2 separate regions of the Homo sapiens genome follow, and region 1 is linked to region 2. The links come from fine-mapping of genetic effects on gene expression. A gene starts in region 2. The other region holds a variant in brackets. All regions are shown on one strand. Distances are from middle to middle. Region 1 overlaps CCND2 (cyclin D2). Region 2 holds the start of CCND2 (cyclin D2).

The links.
Region 1: its variant is fine-mapped to the expression of CCND2 in whole blood (TOPMed, PIP 0.92).

What each region holds. Positions count from the first base shown.
Region 1 is chr12:4,300,708-4,316,098 of GRCh38, forward strand. CCND2 (cyclin D2) reads left to right here. Exons shown (of 5, transcript NM_001759.4): 5 at 1-4,646. Among named protein-coding and RNA genes, the nearest start is that of TIGAR, 13 kb to the right of the region's middle. The variant CT/C (reference allele first, on the strand shown) is at 4,271.
Region 2 is chr12:4,262,752-4,277,234 of GRCh38, forward strand. CCND2 (cyclin D2) reads left to right here and starts at 11,011. Exons shown (of 5, transcript NM_001759.4): 1 at 11,011-11,484; 2 at 13,254-13,469. The coding sequence starts at 11,290. CCND2-AS1 (CCND2 antisense RNA 1) reads right to left here and starts at 13,433. Exons shown (of 2, transcript NR_125790.1): 1 at 13,308-13,433. RefSeq lists silencers at 6,628-6,837, 6,848-6,917, 8,432-8,501, 9,126-9,317, 9,302-9,421 and 2 more.

The DNA.
Region 1 (15,391 bases), 38 kb after region 2:
CCTGCTTCTTCTTCCAAATGCAGTTCATTGCAGACACCACCATATTGCTATCTAATGGGGAAATGTAGCTATGGGCCATAACCAAAACTCACATGAAACGGAGGCAGATGGAGACCAAGGGTGGGATCCAGAATGGAGTCTTTTCTGTTATTGTATTTAAAAGGGTAATGTGGCCTTGGCATTTCTTCTTAGAAAAAAACTAATTTTTGGTGCTGATTGGCATGTCTGGTTCACAGTTTAGCATTGTTATAAACCATTCCATTCGAAAAGCACTTTGAAAAATTGTTCCCGAGCGATAGATGGGATGGTTTATGCAAGTCATGCTGAATACTCCTCCCCTCTTCTCTTTTGCCCCCTCCCTTCCTGCCCCCAGTCTGGGTTACTCTTCGCTTCTGGTATCTGGCGTTCTTTGGTACACAGTTCTGGTGTTCCTACCAGGACTCAAGAGACACCCCTTCCTGCTGACATTCCCATCACAACATTCCTCAGACAAGCCTGTAAACTAAAATCTGTTACCATTCTGATGGCACAGAAGGATCTTAATTCCCATCTCTATACTTCTCCTTTGGACATGGAAAGAAAAGTTATTGCTGGTGCAAAGATAGATGGCTGAACATCAGGGTGTGGCATTTTGTTCCCTTTTCCGTTTTTTTTTTTTTATTGTTGTTGTTAATTTTATTGCAAAGTTGTATTCAGCGTACTTGAATTTTTCTTCCTCTCCACTTCTTAGAGGCATTCAGTTAGCAAAGAGGTTGGAGCAACAACTTTTTTTTTTTTTTTTGCACAATTGTAATTGACAGGTAATGAAGCTATTTGTTAAAATATTTGCCTTTTTAAGTAAAAAAGAAAAATCAGAACAGGGCTATTTGAAGAATTATTTTATACACAGATTCTGCCTTGTTTCATAGTATGAGGGTTGAAGACGGAAAACAATCTAAGGGTCTCTCATTTTTTTAATTTTGTTTTGTTCAGTTTGGTTTTTTTTTTTTTTTGCGCTGCTAAGAAGCTAAAGTCATCCATCCTTATTCACGTTGACAGTACCTAGCTGTAATGTTTCACAGAGTGTGCTGCTATTTTATAAACATTTTTATAATATATTATTTTACTGCTTAAATTCCAAGTCCTGAAGTAGATGGTTGAGATATGAGTTCTTCGTACTGGAAAAGCCCTTCCGTAGTTTGTTTTCTTCTGGTAGCATATTCATGGTTGTTTTTTTTTTTCTTTTTTGGTTTTTTGGTTTTTTTTTTTTCCTCTGATCACATTCTTCAAAGACGGAGTATTCTTTACCTCAGGTTTACTGGACAAAATCAATAACTACAAAAGGCAATGATTCACGCTTTTGTTTTCATAATACCTCACAACCGTACAGTTTCTGCTTGGGAGCCCATTCGCATGAGGAATACAGAAGCAGTGTGAGCAGGGCTGACTCCCTCTCAGGTGGAAGGCAGGGCGGTCTCACTCCCAGGGACCTTTTTGGTCATGGAGGCCATCGGGCTCCCAGTTAGACCCTGGTATCCTCATCATGATGGAAAAAATACATTGAACCAAGGGATCCTCCCTCCCCTTCAAGGCAGACGTTCAGTACAAACATTTATGCGGTAGGCTCAGATGTCGTAATTTGCACTTAGGTACCAGGTGTCAGGAAACAGACTAAAAAGAATTCCACCAGGCTGTTTGGAGATCCTCATCTTGGAGCTTTTTCAAAAGCGGGGCTTCATCTGCAAAGGGCCCTTTCATCTTGAAGTTTTTCCCCTCCGTCTTTCCCCTCCCCTGGCATGGACACCTTGTGTTTAGGATCATCTCTGCAGGTTTCCTAGGTCTGAATCTGCGAGTAGATGAACCTGCAGCAAGCAGCGTTTATGGTGCTTCCTTCTCCCTCCTCTGTCTCAAACTGCGCAGGCAAGCACTATGCAAGCCCAGGCCCTCTGCTGAGCGGTACTAAACGGTCGGGTTTTCAATCACACTGAATTGGCAGGATAAGAAAAATAGGTCAGATAAGTATGGGATGATAGTTGAAGGGAGGTGAAGAGGCTGCTTCTCTACAGAGGTGAAATTCCAGATGAGTCAGTCTCTTGGGAAGTGTGTTTAGAAGGGTTCAGGACTTTGTGAGTTAGCATGACCCTAAAATTCTAGGGGATTTCTGGTGGGACAATGGGTGGTGAATTCTGAAGTTTTGGAGAGGGAAGTGGAGCAGCCAGCAAGTAAGCTAGCCAGAGTTTTCTCAAGAGCCAGCTTTGCTCAGCACACTCTCCTGGGCCCCAAGGAGTCCCACGGAATGGGGAAAGCGGGAACCCTGGAGTTCTTGGGAATCTTGGAGCCTAAAGAGAAACCGAGGTGCAAATTCATTTCATGGTGACTGACCCTTGAGCTTAAACAGAAGCAGCAAATGAAAGAACCGGACAAATAAGGAAGGGCACAAGCCTACCCGACTCTATTTACAGTCTGTAACTTTCCACTCTTCCTGTAGTCCCGAGGCCCCTGGGTCCTTCTAGCTTTTCTCTTTCCCATCCTTGGGGCCTTGTGTGATGATGGGTGTGGGGCTGCCGATGGGAAAGTCGGGGGTTGTTAGGCTTTTCTGCCTGCTCCTGCTTAAACACAAGAAGGAATCCTGGATTTTGCCCTCTCCTTAGCTCTTAGTCTCTTTGGTAGGAGTTTTGTTCCAGAGGAGCTCTCCCCCTTGGATTTGAACTTGCTCTTTTTGTTGTTGTTGTTCTTTCTCTTCTTTTTCTTACCTCCCACTAAAGGGGTTCCAAATTATCCTGGTCTTTTTCTACCTTGTTGTGTTTCTATCTCGTCTTTACTTCCATCTGTTTGTTTTTTTCTCCATCAGTGGGGGCCGAGTTGTTCCCCCAGCCTGCCAAATTTTGATCCTTCCCCTCTTTTGGCCAAATCCTAGGGGGAAGAAATCCTAGTATGCCAAAAATATATGCTAAGCATAATTAAACTCCATGCGGGTCCATAACAGCCAAGAAGCCTGCAGGAGAAAGCCAAGGGCAGTTCCCTCCGCAGAACACCCCATGCGTGCTGAGAGGCGAGCTCCTTGAAGAAGGGGCTGTTCTTCCAGGAGGCCTTATTTTGAACTGCCTCAGGACCCCACTGGAGAGCACAGCATGCCTTACTACTGGGTCATCCTTGGTCTATGTGCTCTGTACTGGAGGCTCTGTTCTGCCTCTTATCAGCCAGGTCAGGGGCACACATGGCTTAAGTGACAAAGCCAGAGGAGAAGACAACCCTGACAGCATCACGCTGCATCCCATTGCTAGCAGGATTGGCAACTCTTCAGACGGAGCTGCGCTTCCCTGCAGTCTAGCACCTCTAGGGCCTCTCCAGACTGTGCCCTGGGAGCTCTGGGACTGAAAGGTTAAGAACATAAGGCAGGATCAGATGACTCTCTCCAAGAGGGCAGGGGAATTTTCTCTCCATGGGCCACAGGGGACAGGGCTGGGAGAAGAAATAGACTTGCACCTTATGTCATGTAAATAATTGATTTTCTAGTTCAAGAAGATAATATTGGTAGTGTGGGAATTGGAGGTAGGAAGGGGAGGAAGTCTGAGTAAGCCAGTTGGCTTCTAAGCCAAAAGGATTCCTCTTTGTTTATCTCTGAGACAGTCCAACCTTGAGAATAGCTTTAAAAGGGAAATTAATGCTGAGATGATAAAGTCCCCTTAAGCCAACAAACCCTCTGTAGCTATAGAATGAGTGCAGGTTTCTATTGGTGTGGACTCAGAGCAATTTACAAGAGCTGTTCATGCAGCCATCCATTTGTGCAAAATAGGGTAAGAAGATTCAAGAGGATATTTATTACTTCCTCATACCACATGGCTTTTGATGATTCTGGATTCTAAACAACCCAGAATGGTCATTTCAGGCACAACGATACTACATTCGTGTGTGTCTGCTTTTAAACTTGGCTGGGCTATCAGACCCTATTCTCGGCTCAGGTTTTGAGAAGCCATCAGCAAATGTGTACGTGCATGCTGTAGCTGCAGCCTGCATCCCTTCGCCTGCAGCCTACTTTGGGGAAATAAAGTGCCTTACTGACTGTAGCCATTACAGTATCCAATGTCTTTTGACAGGTGCCTGTCCTTGAAAAACAAAGTTTCTATTTTTATTTTTAATTGGTTTAGTTCTTAACTGCTGGCCAACTCTTACATCCCCAGCAAATCATCGGGCCATTGGATTTTTTCCATTATGTTCATCACCCTTATATCATGTACCTCAGATCTCTCTCTCTCTCCTCTCTCTCAGTTATGTAGTTTCTTGTCTTGGA[CT/C]TTTTTTTTTCTTTTCTTTTTCTTTTTTTTTTTGCTTTAAAACAAGTGTGATGCCATATCAAGTCCATGTTATTCTCTCACAGTGTACTCTATAAGAGGTGTGGGTGTCTGTTTGGTCAGGATGTTAGAAAGTGCTGATAAGTAGCATGATCAGTGTATGCGAAAAGGTTTTTAGGAAGTATGGCAAAAATGTTGTATTGGCTATGATGGTGACATGATATAGTCAGCTGCCTTTTAAGAGGTCTTATCTGTTCAGTGTTAAGTGATTTAAAAAAATAATAACCTGTTTTCTGACTAGTTTAAAGATGGATTTGAAAATGGTTTTGAATGCAATTAGGTTATGCTATTTGGACAATAAACTCACCTTGACCTAAATTATCTGGCCGTTTTTGACTTATTTATAAACCAGCAGTCCTCAGAATGGAATACACTTGTCTCATGTCAGAACTGTTTCATGCCGCTGCAACATTTGGCAGTGGCATAAAAGACACATTCTAACCTGGAATGGAATCTACATGTGCCTCTGTGTTATGGCGGTACAAGTCATTGTTGACATTGCTAGGGGACGAGGGGTGCCTATGCAGCCAGCTTATAAGCTAGAAGCCTCAGTCCACCTTCAGAAGGTGGGTACATCACAGACACTATGACTGGTCCTCAGAGGATCGTCCCTGATTGTTGCCAGCTACTCATTCTGGGCTGTGAGGAAGCATCTCCTGGCATGAGAGGTACCAGAAGCCTGCGGTGCCATCTCCAGAGTCTAGGGAGTCTCTGGGAACCCTGCCCCTGCAGCTTTCCTGGCTCCTGCCTGCTGTTCTTCGTGGCTCCCACCTGATTTCTGATCCTTCCTGCACCCCTCTTCTGAGACACAGGCCACAACTACCTTTGCTGGAGTCTGGAGAAGCAGAGCCTGGGAATGGGATGTGACAGTCTCCGTACTGCTGAAATGAATTGCCAGGCCCTAGGCCCAGCTGCTCTTGGACCTTAGCTCAGACCAGCTTCTTTCCCGAGAGTGATGGGTGTGCAGAAGACAAGGGCCTAATGAACACTTTTTTGTGTGTTTTGTTTAGAAACAGGGTCTTGCTGTGTCCCCCAGGTTGGAGTGCAGTGGCACAATCCCAGCTTGCTGCAGCCTCACACTCCTGGGCTCAAGCAATCCTCCTGCCTCAGCCTCCCAAGTAGCTGGGATTACAGGCGCCCACCACCACGCCCAGTTAATTTTTTTATTTTTTGTACAGATTTTTTGTATAGCTTTGTTGCACAAGCTATAACAGACATTTTGATGTTACTGTAAAATTAATTTTTTCCAAAGTTCCTTGTCTGGAAGTCATCGAAGGCTGTTTTCCATTTTAATTCTGACCTGAGTTGTAAACAAGATTTAAAACTGGCCGTTGGGGAAGTCCAGATTAAGATATTCCAGGCTGATCTCAAGTAACTTCACTTAATAGGACTTTTAAGCTTACAAGGACCCTAGAAATTCCCCTTTGTTCCCATTCCCCTTGACATCCGCCATTCTTAGCGACAAATGGGGGTAACTTTTTTCTTGGGTTTCTGCCTAGTGAAGTCTGCTGGCCTCCTGGGAGTTTCAAGGGCCTCTGGTTGCCATTCTTAACCATCCTTGGAATTCTCTTTGGCATGACATAATGTCCAACTGGGTTCCTCTCCCTCCCTTTCCCTATCTTTTTGCTCTGTAGGATCAATGCTATATCTGTTTATAGCATGACAACTCCACTCCCTCTCTCAAATGCCACCCAGCAACACTGCTGGGCTTCCCCCATTCTGAACAATGGATGTTTTAAGGGCGGGAAGAGCAGATGAAGCACACAGCCGAGCAGTGAGAAATCTGACTGTCCCATCTACGCTCTTTCAGACCCAGATCATCTTATAACTGGAAAATCTCAAACTTGGAAGTGCCTTTCCTGAAAGTGGCCATTAAAAATGCAATGAAGACCTGGAAATCCCCGATCTTTTGTGCGTGTTCAAGGGAGTGCTTTTGTATCTCTAATGACTTTCTAAGATTTGGAGCTTTTATTTAGTATGCAGAGGTATCCCCAAAATTCACCTTCCCAGTTGGCTTAGCAGTAATACTGTCAAAATACTGACACGAAGCAAGTACTCAAAAGCTGAATATTACACCAGATTACTTCCCTGCTCTCCTGGCAATTACAGCAACAGCAAAAATGCTGTGGACAGAGTAGGGAGATTCAGAGTATCAAGGTAAGCCTAGTACTCACAGCCGATGTGTTATGTGGGGCCTGTACTGAGCCTTTAAGGAAAAGCACAGAAAAAAACAGGACACACAGGCCTATGAAATAGCAGAGAGAAACAACAGCAAATGCAAATGAGTCTGGGGGGAAATCGATGCTAAGGTGTGGGAGGGGGCCCTTGCAGAGGAACAGGTTTCCTCAAGCAAGTGAGTTTTAGGAAAACACTTTTGTTAGGAAGATCATGTGGGTCAGCATAGTTTGGAAACGGAAACAGAGTGTGACCTTTTCCAAAAATAAAAGGGATGGGAAGTAATTTTTTTTTAAATGAAGGGAAAATATTCCACACAATTTAATAGATTTTAAACAATATAAACACAGATGTTAGGCTTGTGAAACAGGATAAGCACAGCCACAAACATTGATTTGGGATTACCACCCACCTAATTTCTCATGAGGCTTAAAGAAAGAAGGCTGGACGCTTCAATATGACTGGTGGCTTTCCTTGTCTTTGGGCTCTGGGGGCCTCCCCGTGCTGGAGGGGCGGATTCCATCCGCTCGGACCACAGGCTCAGTCAAACAGAACTGGGCGGCCTGAGAAAGCAAGACCAGCGCCCCTGCCTCTGTCTCATTGTCCCCCTGAAGCTTTGAGTTTATGCTTCAAGCTTTGAGTTTACTCATTATTATGGTTTCTTTCATGCTGATTCGCTCGGAGGACCCTGGCCCTTCTGCTGCGCTCACCGCCGCCGCTCTGGTAAATGACTGTCCGCATGGTTTCAACATGCAGTTCTTCCTGCGAAGTCCACTAGGTGGTACTAATGCCACGGACAGGATCACTCACAAGGAAACCCAGAGCCAGCCGGGTGTAGGTTGCCTCTGCCCTGCACGGAAGGGAACACCTCCCTCCAGCAGACAGCACTGGAGCAGCACCCCCGCCTCCGCCATCTCCCCAGGGCAGCCTGGGGAAGGAACGTCAGGCCTTTCCCGTCCACACCTGGCGCAGTTCCCTCACCTGCTTCTCTCACTACCGCCACATCGTGACTCCATCTGGGGTGGCTGGTGCTGGTTCATCACCTTCCCTGACTCTTCAGTGACTAATCCAGAGATGGCACACTGGCAGCTTACAGACCAAATCCAGCCTGCAGACATAATTAGCTTGACTCCCACAGTGATTGAAACTGTCTTGGATTTACTTGCCAATACAAGATGAGAGCTTTCACATAAAAGTCAGGATTGTAACGACTCTTGGGAGATTTAAGTCCTGGCAACCACAGGCCCGCGAGGCCGCGAGGGCTGCAGCTGAGTGTGACTGGCCCCTTTCTCTACCCTCTGCCCACCCCACAACCGACTGAACCCGCTGCTCTCTTTTACGGCGCCTGCCAGTCGGCTTAGGGCTTACAGCTCTGCAGCCTAACCTGTGTCTGTTTTACCTCCCTGGCCAGGAAGGAGGGCCCAGTAAGTCCCAAGTGGAGTCATCCTCCTCCAACCCTCTCCACCACAAACAGACCTGGAATACTTCTTTCAGTTTGTGGACCATAACCTCTCCTTCTCAGACGAAGAAAGACCGTACTGCCTCAGTAAGCATTAAGATCTCTTTATGTCTTTATGAGTTTTTAGTTATCAGATTACCCCGGGGCTGGGCCAGATTTTTGAAATTCCTTTGAGATCCCAACATTCAGCCCCACGCCCAGGTCTGCAGGTAGGCCCAAATAAGGTGGGGTGGTAAAGATCTGCTTTTTGTTTTTTGGTTTTCTTTTCTTTTGTTTCTGGAGATAGGGTCTTCCTTTGTCTCTGAGGCTAGAGGGCAGTGGCGTGATCACAACTCACTGCAGCCTCAACTTCCCAGGCTCAAGTGATCCTCCCACCTCAGCCTCCCAAGTAGCTGGGACAACAGGCATGCACCACTACATCTAGATTGTTTTAAAAAATGTGTTATAGAAACAGTGTCTCACTATGTTGCCCTGGCTGCTCTCAAACTTTGGGCCTCAAAAGATCCTTCCCACCTCAGCCTCCCAAAGTGCTGGGTTACAGGTGTGAGCCACTGTGTCCAGACAGCTTTTCCTGCTTTTGTTTGTCTGGAGAGTCATTTTTAGTGCTCCTGGCACCATGGAGATTCCATGAGAAGACAAACCTGTGAGATTTCTATATTTGTTGAAAAAGTGCAAATCTCTGTGGCTATGTTTCGGTCAACCCATTCACTGAAAATCGCTACTCTTCATCATCCCCTTCCCACACAGGGCTCCTGGGCACTGCTCGTTTATTCAACAAATGAGGGCTGGGTACGTGCCTGGTGCTCCGTATGGGACCCCTCATTCAACAAATGTGTCTCAGTACTTGCTTTTCCAGGGATGAGATCTCTGCTCTCCTTGATCTCAAAGGCTAAAGACAGAGACAGATAAAAAGACAACTGCTACTTGGTGGTTGGCCCAGAATACAAGTGCTCTATGCTCTGCTCTGGAATGCCCCCCCGGCCACCCACTCGCTTTGTAACCTTGGGCTCATTACTTAGCCACCCAGCAACTCACAGTAAACTCAGTGACTTAGTTTTTTCATCTGTGAAATGGGGTTTTGTAGTTTTGAAAGAGCTTTCCACAAGCCTCTCCTATAATCCTTTTATAACTCTGGTGAATTTGGTACCTTGTTTTGTAGCTAAGTGAATGGAGGGTCACACGGCTCACTTGGCTTATCACAAAGAGTTAGGCTAGGACTGGATCCCAGATGTGTCTGAATTCAAATATCATGCATCTTCTGCTACACTGGGCTACTTTATTGATCCATATTTTGCTTACTGAGCATTGAGCTGAAAGAGTGAGACTTTTAGCCCAGTGTGGGCAGGAAGGTTGCAGGGGGTGGGGGGGGTTGGATGATGACATCACTTAGTGAAATCATCAGGGGATAGTTTTTTAATGAAGACAAAGTCAATGAAGAAAGTAAAGGGCCTTGTCATCTAAGGAGGAGTTTGTCAGTGAATGTACACCAAGGAAGTAGCCTTTTCTTTCCAGCGTCTTTGCCTTGCCCCTTGGCTGTTCTTCATGCTCATTCCATTCAGGTTATAAATGCGTTGCTCATAAACTCCTGGGAAGGAGCCATGGGTTCTGCTTTCCTCCCAAATCCCCAAACCTATGTCAATTAAAACAAGAATCACAGCCAGGCGCGGTGGCTCACACCTGTAATCCCAGCACTCTGGGAGGCCGAGGTGGGCGGATCATGAGGTCAGGAGAACAAGACCATCCTGGCTAACATGGTGAAACCCCATCTCTACTAAAAATACAAAAAATTAGCTGGGCGTGGTGGCATGTGCCTGTAGTCCCAGCTACTCGGGAGGCTGAAGCAGGAGAATCACCCGAACCCAGGAGGCGGAGGTTGCATTCAGCCGAGATTGCGCCACTGCCCTCCAGCCCGGGTGACACAGCAAGATTCCATCTAAAAAAAAAAAACAAAAACAAACAAACAAACAAACAAACAAAATCACATATCTAGTTTGTCCCTATTCTTCAGGGACCCACGAATATCTGTGTTATTATTATTTCTCCCCCAACGCTCCCTCCTTCCCCCACCAAGCCCAGAGAATCTCAGTCCAGAGGCAGGGAAGCCTTGCTTGTATCATCAGCCTCCCAAGCCTTTGCTATTTAAAGATTCCTTTTGTTATCCTATAGGAAGAGATATTCTTTTTCTTGGTTTTTCGTGGCCACCTTCCTTGCCCCGAAAAAAGGGACACAGGAGGAAGGGCCCAAAAACGTAGAGGAAAAATACTGTAGGAAAAAATGCTGATTAATATTTCCAAAAATATTATTTTACCATGGATGCAATGGCCTGAGGCCCTGCAAGGGTGAATGCCACACTGAGGGTCACCCAGCAATGTACAAATGAACAATGAAGGACAACTGCTGGCCTCTGCAGGCTTCCATTCATTGCTCAGCTCTGTGAGCCTCTGGACATCTTGGTGAATACCCTCAGAAAATCTTGAAGCACCACAGGTTTTAAAAGCAGTCACTCACTTATGTTTTTCATATGTCACTGTAAGCTCATCATGAAGGGACTATGGAAGATTTGCTTCCATATGGCACTGCCTAGGTATTAGGGCCAGGACACCTAGGATTTTAGGGCCTAGCGGTCTTCTCTTTTCCTTAGCATTCTGTCAGGGCTCTGGCAAGAACAAGAGGATTGGCCTTTCTAGCCAATGTCCCCCCCAGTGCTTGCTACTTGCCTGGAATATTATGGACTGTATCATACATTTCTGTATTACATACAATCATTGTGACAGAGTCAGGATGCTGTGGTGGAAAAAGGCTTAGGTAATAAGATGATCTGACTTTGAATCCCAGGGCTGCCACTTAGCTTTACAAGCTCTGAGTCTCTGCTATTCTTTTATAAAATCTCTCTGGATTATTAGAAGGATTAAATGAGGTAGTCTATGTAAAGTGCCTAATACATAGAAAGCTTTAACAAGAATCAGCTAGTCTGAACATATGCAAACACACCAAGGACCGTGTTCATTGCTTTTGAAGGCATTGTAGATGCAATGTTATTTTCCCAAAAAGTCAGGGGTGGAGGTGGATATGGGTTTTCTGTGGATCCTGATGAGACTACTATCAAGAGCACAGCAGTGAAACAAAAGCATTTACAACTCTCATAATATCCCCTTGGTGCTGCCGCCCTTCTTCCAGACAGCAATGAACTTGGGCTTGGGGAGCGTTCTCTTCCCCACTAAGTAACAGGCTAACAGGCAAGGCATGAAAAGGGATTAGAGGATGCATGTATTCAAATAAAGGGGAGTTCCCCAGAAGCACGGCAGGCTGAGAAGGCATCTTTCGACTGTCCATCAGTAGGAAAGCTGTTTGACTGGCAGATATAATTTTTTTGGAACCAGCAATAATGGGGAGCTATTGGTGACAGATGTCAGATGTTGGCAGAGCAGCTGCCAAAACAAGTCTCCCTCCACCTTCAGACATCAAGCTGATGGGGACTGGGAGTCCCTTCGCACTTGGGTCATTGGTCACATTATTATTTCTCAGTCGCTGGACAAAGCAGATGGTTTACCATGTATTTGTGATTTTCTGTTGGCCTAGAAATTCTGTTCTTCCATCAGGGTACAGCATGTAATCAATTATGACAGTGGGTGGTGCAAGAAAATCCCTGCCAGTAAAAGCCCAAGACTTTCTCTTTTATTAAGTCTGCATAAACCACTACAATTTCCAACTTCAAAGCAATAGAAGAAAAAAGCAAAGTAGTGGTGTTATAAATAACTTGGGTAATCACAAAAACCACAGTTCTCAGTTGGTCCCAAACACTCTCAGTCTGTACTATCTGATGTCAGTTTTGTCTGTCCATTTTTATTCTGAAACTTAAAATCCTCTTGTCTCTATTCTAGTAAGTCTTAATAATATACGTATATTTTTAGACAGAGTCTTGCTCTGTCACCCAGTCTGGAGTGCAGTGGCACGATCTTGGCTCACTGTAACCTCCACCTTCCAGGTTCAAACAATTCTCCTGCCTCGGCCTCCGAAGTAGCTGGGACTATCATGCACAGCTAATTTTGTATTTTTAGTAGAGACAGGGGTTCGCCATGTTGGCCAGGTTGGTCTTAAACTCCTGACCTCAAGTGATCTGCCCGCCTTGGCCTCCCAAAGTGTGCCGGGATTACAGGCATGAGCCACTGCACCCTGCCTCTATTCTGGTAAGTCTTAAAGAGCTTTATCTTAGAATCATAAAGTGACCTAATTAAAAATAAACAGAACAAATACCAGGAACATACTACCCCTCAACTAAGGTTTTTTTTAAAAAAAAAATTCTCAGCTGTATTCTATTACATAGTAAAAATAGTAAGTTGCCTTGCTTTAGTATGTGTGAGTAGCCACATAGAACAGTTTATATGTTCTCCATCACCCACCCTCTGGATAATTTTCTTTGTGAAAGACACCTTGCTTATTTGTATGCATGTGTCTCAGGAAATAAATTCTTTAGTAATAGAGCAGAACAAGCATTTTTAACATGATAACTACCAACTAGAGAAACTCTTGACATAAATTACACATTTTTTCTTGTCTTTTAAAAATATGTATGTATTTTTTCTTAAAAATCAGGCTCATAAACGAATGGCTTTCTACTCTTTTTTCATGTAATCTCCTATCAGGGGAATGTTATCATACCATTAAATATTCTGTAAGAACATGATTTCTAGGGCTGGATACGGTGGCTCACATCTGTAATCCCAGCATTTTGGGAGGCCCAGGCAGGAGGATCACCTTAGGTCAGGAGTTTGAGACCAGCCTGGCCAACATGGTGAAACCCGATCTCTACTAAAAATACAAAAATCAGCTGGGCGTGGTGGCACATGCCTGTAATCCCAGCTATGTGGGAGCTGAGGCAGGAGAGTTGCTTGAACCCTGGAGGCGGAGGTTGCAGTAAGCTGAGATGGCGCCACTGCACCCCAGCCTGGGTGACAGAGAAGACTCCGTCTCAAAAAAAAAAAAAAAAAAAAAAAAGAAACAAACCAAAAAAAAAAAAAGAAAAAAAACCATAGATTCTAATGAATTGTTTGGGCTCCTACAATATATCTAGTACTACTTGAGGTGCTGAAGACACAGAAGGGAACAAGCCAGTCCCCACGGTCAAGGAATATATATCCTGCTGAAGAAAGACAAGCAATGAACCTACAAAAATGTTCATAAATGATATAATTTCAGAATAAAATCGGATGATGGATAGTGACTGGGCAGCCTACTTTGCTTGAGGGAAGACCTCTTGAGAGTGGGACTTCTGAGTTGATACCTGAAGGCTGAGAAGGAGGCAGCCATGCAAATATCTTGGGAAAGAGCTCTGTGAGCAGAAGGAACAGAGAATGCAAAGATCCGGAGGTAGGAATGAGCATGACGTGGTCTACGAACAGAGAGAAGCCCTGACGGCTGGAGCTGGATGAGGAGGGGCAGCGAAGAGAGAATTGTAACTGGAGGGCCAAGAGGGGCCATGCCACATAGGCCTTGCAGGAGTTGGGACTTCATTCTAACTGCAATGAGAATTCAATAGAGAATTCTCCAGCAAGGGAGTGACACAATAGGGACATCTCTTCAATGGCTGAGTACCAGAGTAGAGGCAGCAGAGCTATGCCAACAGGCTATCACAGTAATCCAGACGAGAGGTGATGAAGGCTCAGCCTGGGACACAGTGAGACTCCAGAAGTGGTGGATTCAGGACATAATTTGGTGATAGACCCCATAAACTTTTTTTAAAGGTTTTGGATAGATAGCTTTTATCATTTATTTATTATTGAAGATATGTACGACACAATAAATAAGCTTGCTTCAGACGTATATATAGAACTCTGTATCCAATAATGAGTGAATCCACATTCTTCACAAGGACACACGAAACATTTCTGTGAAATGCCTGTGGACTAGTCCACAAAGCAAGTCTCTGTAAATTTCAAAAATGTATACCCTTGAAAATCTCTGAAGTCCTGGAGATTTAAGTCTGCAACTATCTTAGTCTTACTACCAAGAATAGCCCCTAAGGAAAAAAAAAAACCCTTTCAATAAAAAAAAGATAAACAAGAATAATATAAATTTCACAGACTCCAGCTAACCAGCTTTTGGTCACAATGTAATTAATTTCACTCTTAATGCATTGCTGAAAATATTTAAATGCCTGGGGAACTGGCTCCAACCCACAATCTCCTCCCCTACCCTACATTCCAAATAGATCAGGCATTTTACACTTGGCTCATCTTCGGTGAAGACAGTAATTAATCTTTATTTGAAAACAAGATTTGGGAGGCAGACGCAGGCAGATCACCTGAGGTCAGGCGTTTGAGACCAGCCTGGCCAACATGGTGAAACCCCATTTCTACTAAAAATATAGAAAAATTAGCTGGGCGTGGTGGCGGGTACCTGTAATCCCAGCTACTCAGGAGCCTGGGGCAGAAGAATCGCTTGAACCTGGGAGGTGGAGGTTTCAGTGAGCTGAGATCACGCCACTGCACTCCAGCCTGGGTGACGGAGCAAGACTCTGTCTTAAAAAAAAAAAAAAAAAAAAAAAAAAAAAGCAAGAAAACGAGTAAAATCCAGCACTCACTGCATTATTGAGCCTACAGAAATCTATGATGAATTTGACAGGGAATATTAGGATAGGTAAAGAATCAAGGGTTTCATGAGCAGTCAAGTGGAGGGTGTTACCATTTACTGAGATGAGAAAGACTTGAAGACCAGCTGTTTTTAGGGGTAAAAATGGAAGGTTCTGTGTGGACAAAGTTAGCCTGAGATGTCAACTATAGACCCAAGCGTAGATGTTGAGTAGGCAACTATAACAGATAAACGAATGAGGAGCTCAAGGGAAAGGCCAGGCTGGGGATATAACTAAGATCTATACACTGGATTAGATCATCTAGCTGACTGCACAGTTGAGTAGAGAAGAGAGCCAAGGGCAGAATCCTCAATACTCCAACATGCACAGGGTTTATGGGATTGTCTACCCCCCAACAATTCATGTGTACCTCACGTTTCCCATCACCTCTGCAATTTGGTAGGGCCACGTGAGTGGCTCTGGACAATGAATGAAGGAAGCATCTAAGGACTGGTTCAAGACCCTCAACTATTCTCATCTCCTGCCTCAAAAATCGTGAATTCTTATGTTTCTGAAGTTAACATGTCTGTCAACCCTAGGTCCTGAATGAGTATGTGGCTTTAAGACCCTTTCTGATCCACGTCAGACATATAGCATGAAAGAAAAACAAACACTTGTGTGTGAAGCCATGGAAATTCCAGAGTTAATTTGTTACCTCGGCATAACGTGGCCTAATCCAGAATGCCATCATATGATGCGCTTCAACAAAGCACCATTTTTCATTTTTTTAAAAAGGCGTTATGTGATTTGAGAGGCTGTCAACAAAATATATTGGTGGATGGCTGGGTGTGGTCGTTCATG
Region 2 (14,483 bases):
TTTCCTCTCTAGACCAGTATCCCCAGTGGTACTGGAGGAGGCTTGTTCCAGGAGCCTGGGGTGGAGAATGCAAAGATGGCAGTCACGCCCTATTGTATTCTTCTGTAACTGCCTTGATGGTCCGAGGTTTCTGAAGTTGCTCCAAATTGCTCTCTCTCATTAGCCACACATTAAGAAGGACACAACACTTTAAGATGGATACCAGTGAACTAGTCAGGATCCAGAGGAGGGCAGCCTGCTGGTGGTCTAATGTCCAGCTGAACAGCTAAAGAGAAAGGGTAATTCAGTCTAAGGGACAGAAGATGAAGAGATGGCGCTTTCAAATATCTGAGCAGCTGTCAGTATAAATGAGGGAGATGGCTTGTTCTGCCTCGTTTCAGTGGCTGGAGACAGCACTTAAGGGTAAAAATTGCCAGGAGGTAGGATGTTTGGGCCCCTAACTAGCTGTGTGACCTTTAGTAAATCATTTAACTGAATAGGTACTGCCATGATAGATGGGAGTATGACCTCGGAGACCTATGAAGTTTCCTTATAATCATAAGTTGCTGTGATCTTGTTTAAGTCTTGCCCCAAGTTACACAGCTTGTGGCAGAATGAGGACTAGAATACATCTCTCCTAACCCCAAATCCAGCACTCTCTCCATGCCATATACCATACATTTTACAAATTATCTAGCACTCTCTCCATGCCATATACCATACATTTTACAAATTATCTAGCACATTGTTTAAAAACCATCTCAGATATAATTATTCATTAATTACTATGAATTTCTCTTTTGTAGGAGCCACACCTTAAAAAGGAAACGTGTCTACAAACATATCATTCTGTAAAGCAAATAATTTGCATGTAAGTGGACTTTACTGGAGTGCATGTAATCTCAATAGATGATGTTTCTCCCATGTTCAAAGCAATGAAAAGTGAGGGAGAAAAGTGGGATACAGCAGAAATCTTTCCTTGCTTGTTTCTGGTTATCAAGACTTGCCAGGAAACAAAAGGGGATGTCTTGTCCAAAGATTGCAACTCCGCAAAATTTGCTTAATTCCCTTTTCACTAAAGGAGCAAGCTGATGCTCCATGGTTCTGGGTAGCTCAGAACGAGCTTTGTTTAAAGAGGCTCACCAGGTCCATGGACTGTCACCTAAAGAAGGATCTGCAAGTTAGGGTCCATTCCAAACCGTGTCTATATGCGCTCTGATGGGGGCTCTGTTTGAATTGTAGGAATAAGCTTTAGGTTAGTTTAAGCTTTAGGTTAAACTAACCTGCTAAGATTTCCTTAAGCACCCTGGAGCAGTGTTATAGTCCATATATTCTTATGCTCTCTATATTTTTGAAGACCGCTATTCTATTAACTTAGGCAGTTCTGTTCCTTAGGACAAGGAAAACAGCATTTTTCCTCAGCCGACATGTACCAAGTGCCCATCTATATGAGGAACTAAATGTTAAAAGTTCCAACTCTTGATAGATTAATTCTCCCAGATACCTGGGAAGTGAGAGCATACCTAAACCCACAATTTAAGAATCCTTGTTTAAAACATAAAGTATATAATAAATTGATTCCGATTTTGATGATGATAATAAAGTCACTGGAATTTTATAGATTTTGAGCTGAAAGGGAACTTAACGATCATTTACTACAGCCAGTTAATTTTGTAGCTGAGGAAACTCAATCTTGGAAACACATAATCTATCCCCAAGGTCACAGTGCTGGTTAGTGCAGAGTAGAAGCAAGAAAGAGGGTACAGTCGGCCCTCTCTATGCATGGGTTCCGTATCCACAGATACACCCAACCACGGATCAAAAATATTCAGAGAAAAAAACACAGTAAAAAAATAACAAATGCAACAATGAGAAGTAATACAAATAAAAACACAGCATAACCGCTTCCAAAGCATTTACTTTATATTAGGTACTGTAAGTAATCTAGCGATAATTTAAAGTGTATGGGAGAAGTGTATAGGCTATATGCAAATATTACACCATTTTATATCGGATTTTTACATCCTGGATTTTGGTGGTGGGGTGGGAGTCTTTGAACCAATATCCCCACAGACACTGAGGGATGGCTGTATTCTGACTTCTAGGCTAGAGCTGTTTCACCAACATGATGCTAATAAAAAGGACAGGATTTTCTGCATCAATTCTAGGAGACAGTCAAGCTAATAATCAGAGGTCTATATTCTGCTCTTAATGTCTGGGTGTCCCAGGACAAGAAAATGAGCTATTGTGACCTCAAATTCCCTAGCCAAAGGAGTGAAACACTAATCAATGCCCTGTCAGATACAGGGAGGGCTCGTTCAGACGAGAAACAGATGCTGTGGGAAATACAGCTACTCAAAGAAAGGAACGCTCTCAGTATGATGGACCAAGGAAACGGCTCTATCTTTGGCTACTTTAAAGGGACTGAGTCCCATATATGTGATATGTGAATCAGACATCCAACCAACTCGTTCCCATAGAATATAAACAAATTAAGAACATAATTTAGGAACATAATTCTTAAAATCACTATGCAATCCAAGTAACAGTTACTTGACTAGACTGAGTTTTAAAGAAAAGATAAATTTCCACCTCCCTGGTTTAAGGTATGTTGTGGAAGGTGGATAAAATAGCATATCTTCCTATGCCTTTTGTTCTATGATTTTATTATTTTTTAAGAACATGTACTTATCCGGGGTATTATTTCCTATGCTTCATCACTAGACAATGTGCTTCCCAGGGACGCGGACTGTGTGATTCAACTCTCCTTCCTGTCTACCTTCCAAAACATTGTCTATGTCCACGATATCCCCAATGCCTAGCATAGTGTTTGGTATGTGGTAAGGACTCAATTTTAATCAAATAAATGAATGGATAAATTGCAAAACCCAAAGGCATTCTCCAAAGCACAAAAATCTCAGCATATTTAACTCTTCCATTAAAACCACTTAAATTCTACCTTACAGATTGGAATCATACCCCTGACATGTTCTGATGTATCTCTGCACAGACCTGTGATGTTATCAGTTTAACACATATGTGATCTCTCAGCATGAATAACCTTAATGAATACTATATAGAGTTTCAGTCGCAAACTTCCAGACACAGAAGGCGTATTCTGTGACTGGCCAAAATGGCATGAGGTCCTGCAGTCCATTCCCCTGGCTCCAAGCAAGACTGCATCTAATCTATGGTTGAGAATGATGCTTTCCTGAATGGGAAAGGTTTCCACTAAATGAAACATACAGTCTGCCTTGGTAAAGTCTTAAGTGTCTGAATGGAAGGTCAGACTTTGATTTCTTGAGGTAAGTATGGTTTTCATCCCAAGTGTAGCAAATTTCACTGGCGTTCCATTACCGACTTACTTAAATCATTTGCTAGATGACATAAAATTGCTGGTAATTACACTACAAAGAGTGATTATATGAAGTTTTCTTGTACAAAAGCAAGTAAATTTGAGCCTTATTCAATATTTTGTTAGGGAAATTTTAAATTAAATATGCCATTTTATTTAAAAAGAGAAACATTAGAAGAATATATATTCAGAAGAAAGTAGGGGGGTAGAAAAGGTTGCAAGTCACTAGTTTACTGGAACTACACAATGGGGATGATGTGCTGCTACTTGATACAACTAAATTTCCTGAGTTTAAATGATTTCAGTGAGACCCCCACACAAAACGGCCTGCACAGCCCTAATCCATGATCTAGGCTCGCCTCTCTCAAAATATTTTTTTAAAATAATGGTTCACGATCCTGAAATAATTGGTGGCCATGGGATGCCAGATGTGAGACATTTCATCTGAAACCTTATGTAAACTAACCCAAACCATTTGCTTCAGAATATCTTCCTTGACACCAGGAAAGAGTTTGGGTCCTGGGTTTGCATTTGCCTGATGGACTGACTGGCTGCTCTCAAAAATGGAAACATATGTGGGCACGATGAAGGAAAGGCTTTGGAAATTATGCAAAGAAATTTTCTTTTCCTTTTTAATCCTGTCTTTTTTTTTTTGCTTCCCCTAGGCAATAGGTATATTAAATGTTGGTGACTTTTTATTTTCAAAAGCACAAAATTAAATGTTTTTTGTGTTATTTCTCAGAACAATAACCTAACTTTGGCATCCATACTTTTTTTTTTTACAATTTGATGACAATGTTTAAAGAAATAAAGTGAACATCCCCCCACACACACTCACCGAAAGAATAAGGAAGATAATTTTTATTATTATCATCATCATAATTACTATTATTACCAATGAAGCTTGAAGGAACTCACCTTTATACATCACAAAGAAATAATTATTTGGTTTACAACTGATGAGACCACAACGAAAGTATGATTTGAGATAGCTAAGAGCAGAAATAAATTTGGATTTTTTTTGCTCTAATTGCACCTTCCACATAAACCCCCTTTGCTCTGGATTTGTGCTTTTTGAGTTGTTTGCATCATGCATAGGTGCAGACTTTGTTTCAAGTTCTTGTAAGAGCAGATGCCCTTATTTAAGGCTGAGTAAAGAGGAAATGCATTCCTTATAGGCATCTACATCCAACTGGCTTGGATTGTCTAGCACACTTACACGAACTACCTATTTTCAGGTCAATTCTAAAATAGAACATATCTCTCCAGAGGTACACATTTTGAAGATTATAAAACTTTACAGTCAACCTGTTTCACATTTCAGAACTCATTCCTTTTAATGCCAACAAAAGAACAACAAGAAAATGATTTTAGAAAAATTTTAAATCTGCCTCCTGAAATTTGCCACAAGGAAAACAAACCAAAAAAAGCCTCAAGAAGAGAACTATTTCTCTGTTTTTTTTATTAATTTGTTTTTTTAAGTTTGGTAAATATGAATTTAGCATGTTATGGAATTATGTTATAAACTGTACTAATAGATGCTAGTAATTCTTAAGTTTAAAGATTGAAAATTAAAATATGAAATATTTATTAGAAATACTTTATATTGCTTCAATTGGCTGCAACTGATACACAGCTGAATAAAACCATGAAATCGAAAGAATATTTAATCACATTGGGAAAGTGGACATTTTTAAGGGGAATGAATGTTTGAATTTGGACAAAATTAAAGTGCTTAGAAAACAAATAAAATTGACTATTGTTCAAAAAAAAATTCTGGTGAGGATAGTCTTGACATTTTACAAAGAATTTACATCTCTAAAGTGCTTAACTTAACCTCCACTACTTAACTGTCTGAAATGAAGGTGAAGCTAAATTTAAAGGACATTTTGCTTTTTTAGTTTTTTAAACACTTCCTTTGGCTCCTTCCTTTTCTTTTAATAATTTATCCTATTTTTTCTACCTTTATGCAGACAAACCAAGTGTCCATCAAATCAGGCACCAAAAAGCAAGCACTCTTAAATACAGTTCACTCAGGCTAATCATGACAGTAATTACTGACATTTTTATTAATTATAGCTCATTTTTTCCCCCAGAAGAAACAAAACCAAGTCTCTTGGGTCAGACCAGCAATCATAAAACGAAAAAGAAATAAATAATAAGTTAAAAATAGAGGGAATGTGTTAAAAAGAAGGAAAAAGTACTGTTCATAACCAAACTGTGTCACCTTAAAAAAGAAACATTTCCACACTTAATATCTGATTCAGACAGAAAGCTTCTCTCCTACTTTTGAAACAAATAATTCCACTTCAAATCCACATTTTCAGACACCCCTAGCTTTCTGCATCTGATTCCTACAACAGCCCCTTTACCTCAAAGAGGTAAAAGTCAGTTCACAGTATTTCTCTCCCAAACATCCCCACTGAAGCTCCTTGTAAATTTCAGCATAAACTCAGAACTGTCACCGTGGGTTTAGAAAATAATGACACATTTCAGCTATAACCCCCCAGATTGAAAGATTAAAAGGACTTTGCCCAAATTTAGGGGAAATGAAGGTGCGTGGGCTCACTCTGCAGCTGCAGTTTTCAGCCCTTGCAGTTTAGAAGATTCTGCATGAGCACGGATGCCACGAGGGTATCCAGCGAGTGGGAAGGGAGTCGCCCTACATGTTTTCACATCGATTTGTAAAACTGTTTTGAAAGGGTATTTCTAGATCCATTTGTTCCAAATGCAGCAAAATTCATCCGATATCGCTCACAATGCATGCACGGGTTATCTTACATGTAATAGCCATCGTATTAACCAACCCAGCTGATACTGAGATGGTGAATGGGGCGGGGGAGCAGGGAGGAATATGTCGCGCATGAAAAACTCCGGGTGTAAAAGTCAATGCAGAACTCACTCCCCGAGGAACCGAAAAAGACATTCACGACTCTCAAGTGGAGAGAGGATAGAAAGTCAAGTGGCGGGGGTCGCGACCAGTGATCGGGATTTCAGTCTGATCTCAGTACCCAGCGGAACAGGACCATAACCTAAAGAAATGAGCTTTTTCCGGAGCAAAGAGCGGCCCCGATTTCAAAGTAGAAAAAATAAACTGCTTGGGGGTGGAAGATGGCGAGGGGCGGGGGGCGGGGAGGGAGGCGGGTCGCGGCGCTGGCTCCGGGGTCCGCGGCACGGCCTCCTCTGCCGCGCTGCCCAGGGCCCGGACCCTGCCCGGCGCTGCGCCCACCGCGAGGGTGCCAGACCCGCCGCGCCGCCGCCGCGCTCTCCCAGCCGCGGCCCCCTCCCCCGCCGCTTCCTCTTGCTCTCCCAGCCCCTTCCCCCACGTGTGGATGACGTCAAAATTCCGCGAAAAAGCCGCGTGGTGGCTCCCCGAGCGGAGGCGCGATTCCGCCGCCCAGCGGCCCCCTCCCGGGGGCGCCTGGAGGGGGAGAAGGGCGGAGGCGGCCGGTTCCTTCTCCTCCCGGGAGGCAGGACCCCCCGACGCCGACCGCCGGACGCCCCCCGCCCCAAAGCTTATTGGAAAATTCACTTTTGTAAAGCAAATGTATTTCCAGAGCTATTTTCGGCCGCGTGAGGCGTGTCCTAAGCTGAATCAGACAGGAAGAGGGGGAAGTTCGGGTCTTTTAATTTTTTTTTTTTCCGAAGGGAGGGGAGTGAGATGCTAGGTGGGTGACAGACGGCAGGCGCTCGCCTTCTTAACTCACGCCTGTCGCATCTGCCGCCTCAGTAATCCAGCCCCGTCCAAGCCGAAATTCGCCGAAGGGAGTGCGGATGCACAGGCCTGGCGGACTCTGCCCCCCTCCAGAACGCAGCGGCCCAGCGCCCCGGCGGGCGCGGCTGCGACCAGAGGGTCCCGGAAGCGAGTGAACACCTGCAATCGCACTGCCCGTCCCCACCCACCCTGCTCCCCCGTGCTCTCCGCTTCCCGACGTTTTCCTCTTCTCCTTGTCCGCATTTTTCTACTTTGCCTGCACTCCCTCCTTCCTCTTGATGTGCCTCCTATGTGTCCCCTCGGATTTATGTGTCCCCTCGCATTTTGCCAGTCGGGTTTTCGGTTTTGATTGACCGTCCATCCCTCCACGGAGAAACACAAACACAGCTCCACTCTTTGGGGGAGCCGAGGGGAAGGCAGTGGCTCCCATTTCTGAGCCTGAACTCAGTCACTACCCGCTCCCCACCTGGCCTAGGCGCCCCTGCGCGGAGAAGGCGGGACTCGAACTCGCGCTGCTCCCGGGCCTTGAGCCGACCGCGGAATCACCTGGCTGGGAGGCATCCTCCAGGTAAGCTTGGGAGTATGTGTGCTTAGTGCTGCAGGCTCCTGCAGAAAAGTGCCTATAAACACCCAACACCCTGCTGCACCCTCCACCTCCAGGCTTTGTACACTTTCCAACCGAAACTCCAAAACGCTAGCGTAGAGGGTGGGGAGCCGGCCGGAAAAAGAATAAAAGTCCAATAAAACTGGCGTTCGCTAAAGTTTATCACCAGTCCTACATGGGATATATATATATGTATTTTTTTTTCCGTGAAGGGTGAAAAGGAGATAAGGAAGAACCAACAATCTACCCCCTCCCGCCGCCCCCCACCCCCGCGCCACGGTGATCAGTTTGGACTTCAAAGCCAGAGCACAGGCTCTTGCGCTTTTTCTTGAAACCGAAGTCTACACTGAAAGAAAGTGTGCACTTTTGCCTAGAAGGCAACATGCGTTTTCCCGCGTGCTAGGTGGAGTGCATTTTAACAAGACATTAGGGTTTTAACACATGGCTGGAGTGGCGACCAAAAGGGAAAACTCAGTTTCCAGTCCAAGCCTCCTAGAGACATTCCTGCCAACCTCCGCACCCTCTCACGCCCCACCCCACGTGTGAGAGTCTGCAAAACCACCGGGGATTGGATTCGATGGCGAGCTTCACGCTCGGGAACAGTCAGTAATCGGAAGGGGAAGTGGACAGGGGAACTTCAAGAGGCGAGCCTGCCACGCGGGAAGCGCCCGAACTTGCGGGTCTCCATGAATGCAGAGGGCGCCGGGAAGGGGGGGCATCCGGCCGCGACCCTCTCTGCCCCTCCCATTCGCTGCCCCCCTCCCCGCTGGAATTTCTCTGTAAAGCAAGACGGAGTAGGGGGAGGGGGAGAGGGAAGGGGCGAGAGGGCCCTCGGCTCACTCCCGAGACGTGAGGACTCGCCACCCAGGCATTCTCCTCGGGGTGGGCTGGGCCCCGGGACGACCACCCGCTTCTTCCTCGCCCCCGCTGCCCCCACTTCGGGAGACCCAGAGCTCTGGATGCCTTTCCCCGGAGAAGGGGGGGTGTGCGGAGTCGGGGTGGAAGAGACCTTGCTCGCAGAGCTATATCAAGTGATGTCCAGAGGCTGGGAGCCCCGGCGGCCTCTGTCCCTTGCCTGTCGGGTTAGATTTATACTTTAAAAATACCTCCCGCCCTCCCTCCTTCTCTCGCCTCTCCCCGCTGCAACTTTCTTTGATCCGCTCAAAGGTGGCTTAGGTGAAATTGGAGTAATTCCCTTATGGGGGTCTTAAAATGTAAGTGAATGTCCTTATCCGGGGTGACTCAAAAGCTTAAGTCGGGAAGCCCAACGTGACTAAAACCAATAGGTGATTGTTCGGGGCCGACTGTGTGCGGGTGTACACGGTATTCGGCCCGGGTGTCATCCGCGGCGCTGGACTGTTTCATTTTGAGTTTGCAACTTGGGTTTTTCAGCGAGCTTTTTTTCTTCCTGAAAGCTAATGGCTTCCACAGCAATTAGACATTTTCCTCGCCCGCCCCTTCCCTCCCCTTTCTTTACATATAGGAGATGGGATACTCATTCCCGCTGCTATTGATAAGGTCGGAGGCGGCCGGGCCTCTCCCCAGCTTTCGCCCGCCCCAGCGCCCGCTCTCCCTCCGCCCTCCCTTGGCTTCCTTTTGATGTAGTGGGGAACGCGTCCTACTAAAAAAAAAAAAAAAAAAAAAAAAAAAAAGTAATCTGCCCGGTAACAATCAGCGCGCAGTAGCAGGAGCCCCAGAGCTATTGGCTATGCAAATAGAGGGAGGGGAGACGGCGCCCCAAACTCTTCCTCACCCTTTTAAAGCGATATCCCCTCCTTTCCCCCCCACCACCCCTTCCGCCCCACCCTCGTTTAAAGAGGCTGGCTCCGGGGCCTGAGTTAATCGCTTGCACCTCTAGTTTATTCGCTCCCCTCCTCCGCCTTGCAGGGAACCTAGTGTACGGCTCACCCAGCCCGCGCCCCACCCCGCCTTGCTGGCTCTCCGCGCCCCTGCCCGGGCCCCCTCTCTCGGTGAGGGAGGCACTCAGTCGGCCTCGGTGTGCCCAGAGAGCTCGAGCCACGCCATGCCCGCTGCACGTGCCAGCTTGGCCAGCACATCAGGGCGCTGGTCTCTCCCCTTCCTCCTGGAGTGAAATACACCAAAGGGCGCGGTGGGGGTGGGGGGTGACGGGAGGAAGGAGGTGAAGAAACGCCACCAGATCGTATCTCCTGTAAAGACAGCCTTGACTCAAGCATGCGTTAGAGCACGTGTCAGGGCCGACCGTGCTGGCGGCGACTTCACCGCAGTCGGCTCCCAGGGAGAAAGCCTGGCGAGTGAGGCGCGAAACCGGAGGGGTCGGCGAGGATGCGGGCGAAGGACCGAGCGTGGAGGCCTCATGCCTCCGGGGAAAGGAAGGGGTGGTGGTGTTTGCGCAGGGGGAGCGAGGGGGAGCCGGACCTAATCCCTCACTCGCCCCCTCCCCCTCCCGGGCCATTTCCTAGAAAGCTGCATCGGTGTGGCCACGCTCAGCGCAGACACCTCGGGCGGCTTGTCAGCAGATGCAGGGGCGAGGAAGCGGGTTTTTCCTGCGTGGCCGCTGGCCGCGGGGGAACCGCTGGGAGCCCTGCCCCCGGCCTGCGGCGGCCCTAGACGCTGCACCGCGTCGCCCCACGGCGCCCGAAGAGCCCCCAGAAACACGATGGTTTCTGCTCGAGGATCACATTCTATCCCTCCAGAGAAGCACCCCCCTTCCTTCCTAATACCCACCTCTCCCTCCCTCTTCTTCCTCTGCACACACTCTGCAGGGGGGGGCAGAAGGGACGTTGTTCTGGTCCCTTTAATCGGGGCTTTCGAAACAGCTTCGAAGTTATCAGGAACACAGACTTCAGGGACATGACCTTTATCTCTGGGTATGCGAGGTTGCTATTTTCTAAAATCACCCCCTCCCTTATTTTTCACTTAAGGGACCTATTTCTAAATTGTCTGAGGTCACCCCATCTTCAGATAATCTACCCTACATTCCTGGATCTTAAATACAAGGGCAGGAGGATTAGGATCCGTTTTGAAGAAGCCAAAGTTGGAGGGTCGTATTTTGGCGTGCTACACCTACAGAATGAGTGAAATTAGAGGGCAGAAATAGGAGTCGGTAGTTTTTTGTGGGTTGCCCTGTCCGGGGCCCCTGGCATGCAGGGCTGGATGGAGGGAGAGGGGTGGGGGGTGGCGGGGGACCGCGTTTGAAGTTGGGTCGGGCCAGCTGCTGTTCTCCTTAATAACGAGAGGGGAAAAGGAGGGAGGGAGGGAGAGATTGAAAGGAGGAGGGGAGGACCGGGAGGGGAGGAAAGGGGAGGAGGAACCAGAGCGGGGAGCGCGGGGAGAGGGAGGAGAGCTAACTGCCCAGCCAGCTTGCGTCACCGCTTCAGAGCGGAGAAGAGCGAGCAGGGGAGAGCGAGACCAGTTTTAAGGGGAGGACCGGTGCGAGTGAGGCAGCCCCGAGGCTCTGCTCGCCCACCACCCAATCCTCGCCTCCCTTCTGCTCCACCTTCTCTCTCTGCCCTCACCTCTCCCCCGAAAACCCCCTATTTAGCCAAAGGAAGGAGGTCAGGGGAACGCTCTCCCCTCCCCTTCCAAAAAACAAAAACAGAAAAACCTTTTTCCAGGCCGGGGAAAGCAGGAGGGAGAGGGGCCGCCGGGCTGGCCATGGAGCTGCTGTGCCACGAGGTGGACCCGGTCCGCAGGGCCGTGCGGGACCGCAACCTGCTCCGAGACGACCGCGTCCTGCAGAACCTGCTCACCATCGAGGAGCGCTACCTTCCGCAGTGCTCCTACTTCAAGTGCGTGCAGAAGGACATCCAACCCTACATGCGCAGAATGGTGGCCACCTGGATGCTGGAGGTAGGTCGGGGGGTGGCGCTCGCCAGGAGCCAGGACCCCTCCGGATGCTCGGGTCCCCGGCCGGAGCCCTAAACCTGGGAGAGGGCAATCCCCGCGCCGGCCTCCCGGCTCCTGTGCGGGAGTTTACCGCGCGCCTTCTGGCGAGACGCGTGGCTTTATTTCTGTTCCTCTCCAGATAAACTGGGGAGGCAGAGGGGGGAGGAAAATCTGGGAGAAGCGAGGCTGTCCTGGGCGGGGGTAGGGGAGCATCCCGCGCGCGTGTTCCTGCATGTGGCTGCCTCTTCTTCCCACCCCCCTCGCGACCTGTCTTTTGCGAAGCCGCCGCGGCTGCTTGCGCTGCGGCCAGGAAGAGAGTCGGGGCCTGAAATCGGGACCCCGAGTAGAAAGGCAACCCCCCCCAAAAGGCCAGAGCAAATTCGTCTTGGCCTCAGGTCCCCGCCTGTGGTCGCGACTCCGCGCTGGCACTTCACCGGGGAGGTGGAGGGAGGAGGGAGAAGGAGAGAAACGGGGAATTCGGGAGCCCCGGAAGTCCCATTGAAGAAACGCGTGTTTCAGGGGAACCCAAAAGAACCGCTTCTTGCCCCTCACTCCAAGTCTTTGCCCAGCGAGCCGTGTGCCCACGTATGCACAGCTCTGGACCTGCCGTGGTTTCGCCATGTTGCTTTGCAAACTCCCTTTGGAAAGGCTGGGAAACGTCGCCCGCTTACCCTCGCACCCCATTATCCCGGCCACCCCACTTCTAATCGTGCCCTCTCCCCCACCCCCCACCTCACGAAGATTACTTACAGTTTGGTTTTCCAGCTTCCTCGGTGCGGAGATTTGGGTGGGGTAGGAAGGGGGGGAGGGGGTGTGTGTAGGGGGGATACCGGGTCACCCCTGAAGGAGAGGTGGGAGCCCCCCGTGCCTCTTTCCAGGGCTCTCTGCTCCCGTCTTTCCCCTCGCTCGTCACCGCGTTCCCTAGTTTCTGTCCTTGTGGGCCGCAGCCGGACACTCCCGCCGCGGCGCTCACCCCTTCAAGTTTCCTCCCGGGATCCAAAGCCCCAGGGGTCGGAATACAGACCTTTCTGGCACCCGAAACCTCTGTTTCGGGAAGCCTGGCTCTTCTTTGGGGTTTTCACGCCAAAAGGGCTTTTCTAGGATATTTCCTCGATTTTTAATTATTTTTTGAAACCATCCCCCCCTGCTCCGACTCCAGCTGCCGAGGCTGCGGCGCTCTTCCTCCTCTCCTCCCTCCCCCTCTCTTCCCCACCTCTCCTCACCCGCCCCCCCAAAAGCGGCCCCTGGGCCGCAGGGACCCCCCCAGACATTTTTTCCAATTGTCGGGAATGATAGAGGAGGATCTGGGGATCCGGATGAGACCAAGAAGTGGACCCCCGGAGCCTCCAGAATATTTTTATTGATTTTTTGAAAAGATGACGAAATCCAAAAAAGAGTGAGTGAGTTAGAGTGCGCGAAGGAGTAGCCAAAGGGAGCGTCGCGGAGCTGCCGCGGCTGCTGCGCACTTCTCCGACTCCCCGTTTTGGAGCTGTAGTTCACCCCCTTTTATAGGATCCCTGGGAATACCAAAGCACTGATGGGCTATTCTGATTCACTCCAGTTTCCTCATCTTTGTTCTTTATTCTTATCACGCATTCTGGTCCCCTCCCCCTCCCACAAAAAAAAATTAATTTTTTTTGTTTCGATAGATTACGCTTTTTTATTCTTTTTCTCTTTTGCTGATGCTATGCTCTCCACCCCCGCCCCCCAACCCTTTCCCACTCCCATTATAGGTCTGTGAGGAACAGAAGTGCGAAGAAGAGGTCTTCCCTCTGGCCATGAATTACCTGGACCGTTTCTTGGCTGGGGTCCCGACTCCGAAGTCCCATCTGCAACTCCTGGGTGCTGTCTGCATGTTCCTGGCCTCCAAACTCAAAGAGACCAGCCCGCTGACCGCGGAGAAGCTGTGCATTTACACCGACAACTCCATCAAGCCTCAGGAGCTGCTGGTAATGACCGGCCCCTTCCTCCCTTCCTTTCTGCGATTCCCGCTTTCCCCTGGCCAACAATATGCCTTCTATCACCACTGCCAGAGCAAATTCTTGGGATCCAGAATGACCCCACCAATAGAATTTACCCACTTATGGGCGATAGCTCATTTAATAGGAAACCACTGTTTATTTTTTGTGTGTTCCTACTATGTGCCCAGGCTCCGTGCCCAGCACTGAGGCTACATCTGTGAATAAGATCCTCATGGAGATTTGGGTTGGTGAGACTCATTTGCAATTGTGTATGCATGTGTGTAGGGGACGCATGGAATATTTTAATTAACAGTGATAATATTTTAATTAAATTCCAAATTTCCAAAAATAGTCTGAGAACGTGTTCACATGATAGGTATGTGGCTGTGGTGTCTCCTAAAAACTTGGAGTTCAAAGGTAATGCCCTCTATATCTACAAAGTCTCAAGATACCAACACATAATAGCTGTTCACTAAATATCAGTTCATTGACTTTTGAGCAAAGTCAAAATGTGGCCTTTCACTGAAGGAGTCCGAGGCCTGGGTTCCTACCTCCAGTGGGACTGTGACCTCTGTACAACCCCAGGGATCCTGTCTTATCTCTGCTTTTCTACCAGGGAACCTTTTTCCCACCTGATCTAACTCCTTTTCCCTGCAGCTTGACATATAAGACGACCATATTGCAGCTGTACCGCATGGAATAGCGGCTCCAAGGCCCACCTTCGGTGGTTTGCACACCCCTCTTTGCACTGTTCAGAAAAGCACCCCCTCCTTCCCGCCCCTCCCCCTCCTCACTGGTAGGGCCCGCACAAAGTCCACAGGGCTGAGGCTGGCTTCTTGAACTGAGCTCTTTGTGAGGAGCCTTCCTTTCTGGGGCTCTGCTGCCATCTAGTGGAAGACATGCACAAGGTTGGGGGAGGAATTGCCGAGAATGTGGAGAGGGGCCTGAATGACTTCACCTTTGAACCGCTGCCAGGTTTTAGCTGCTTCTGGTTTGGTCCGA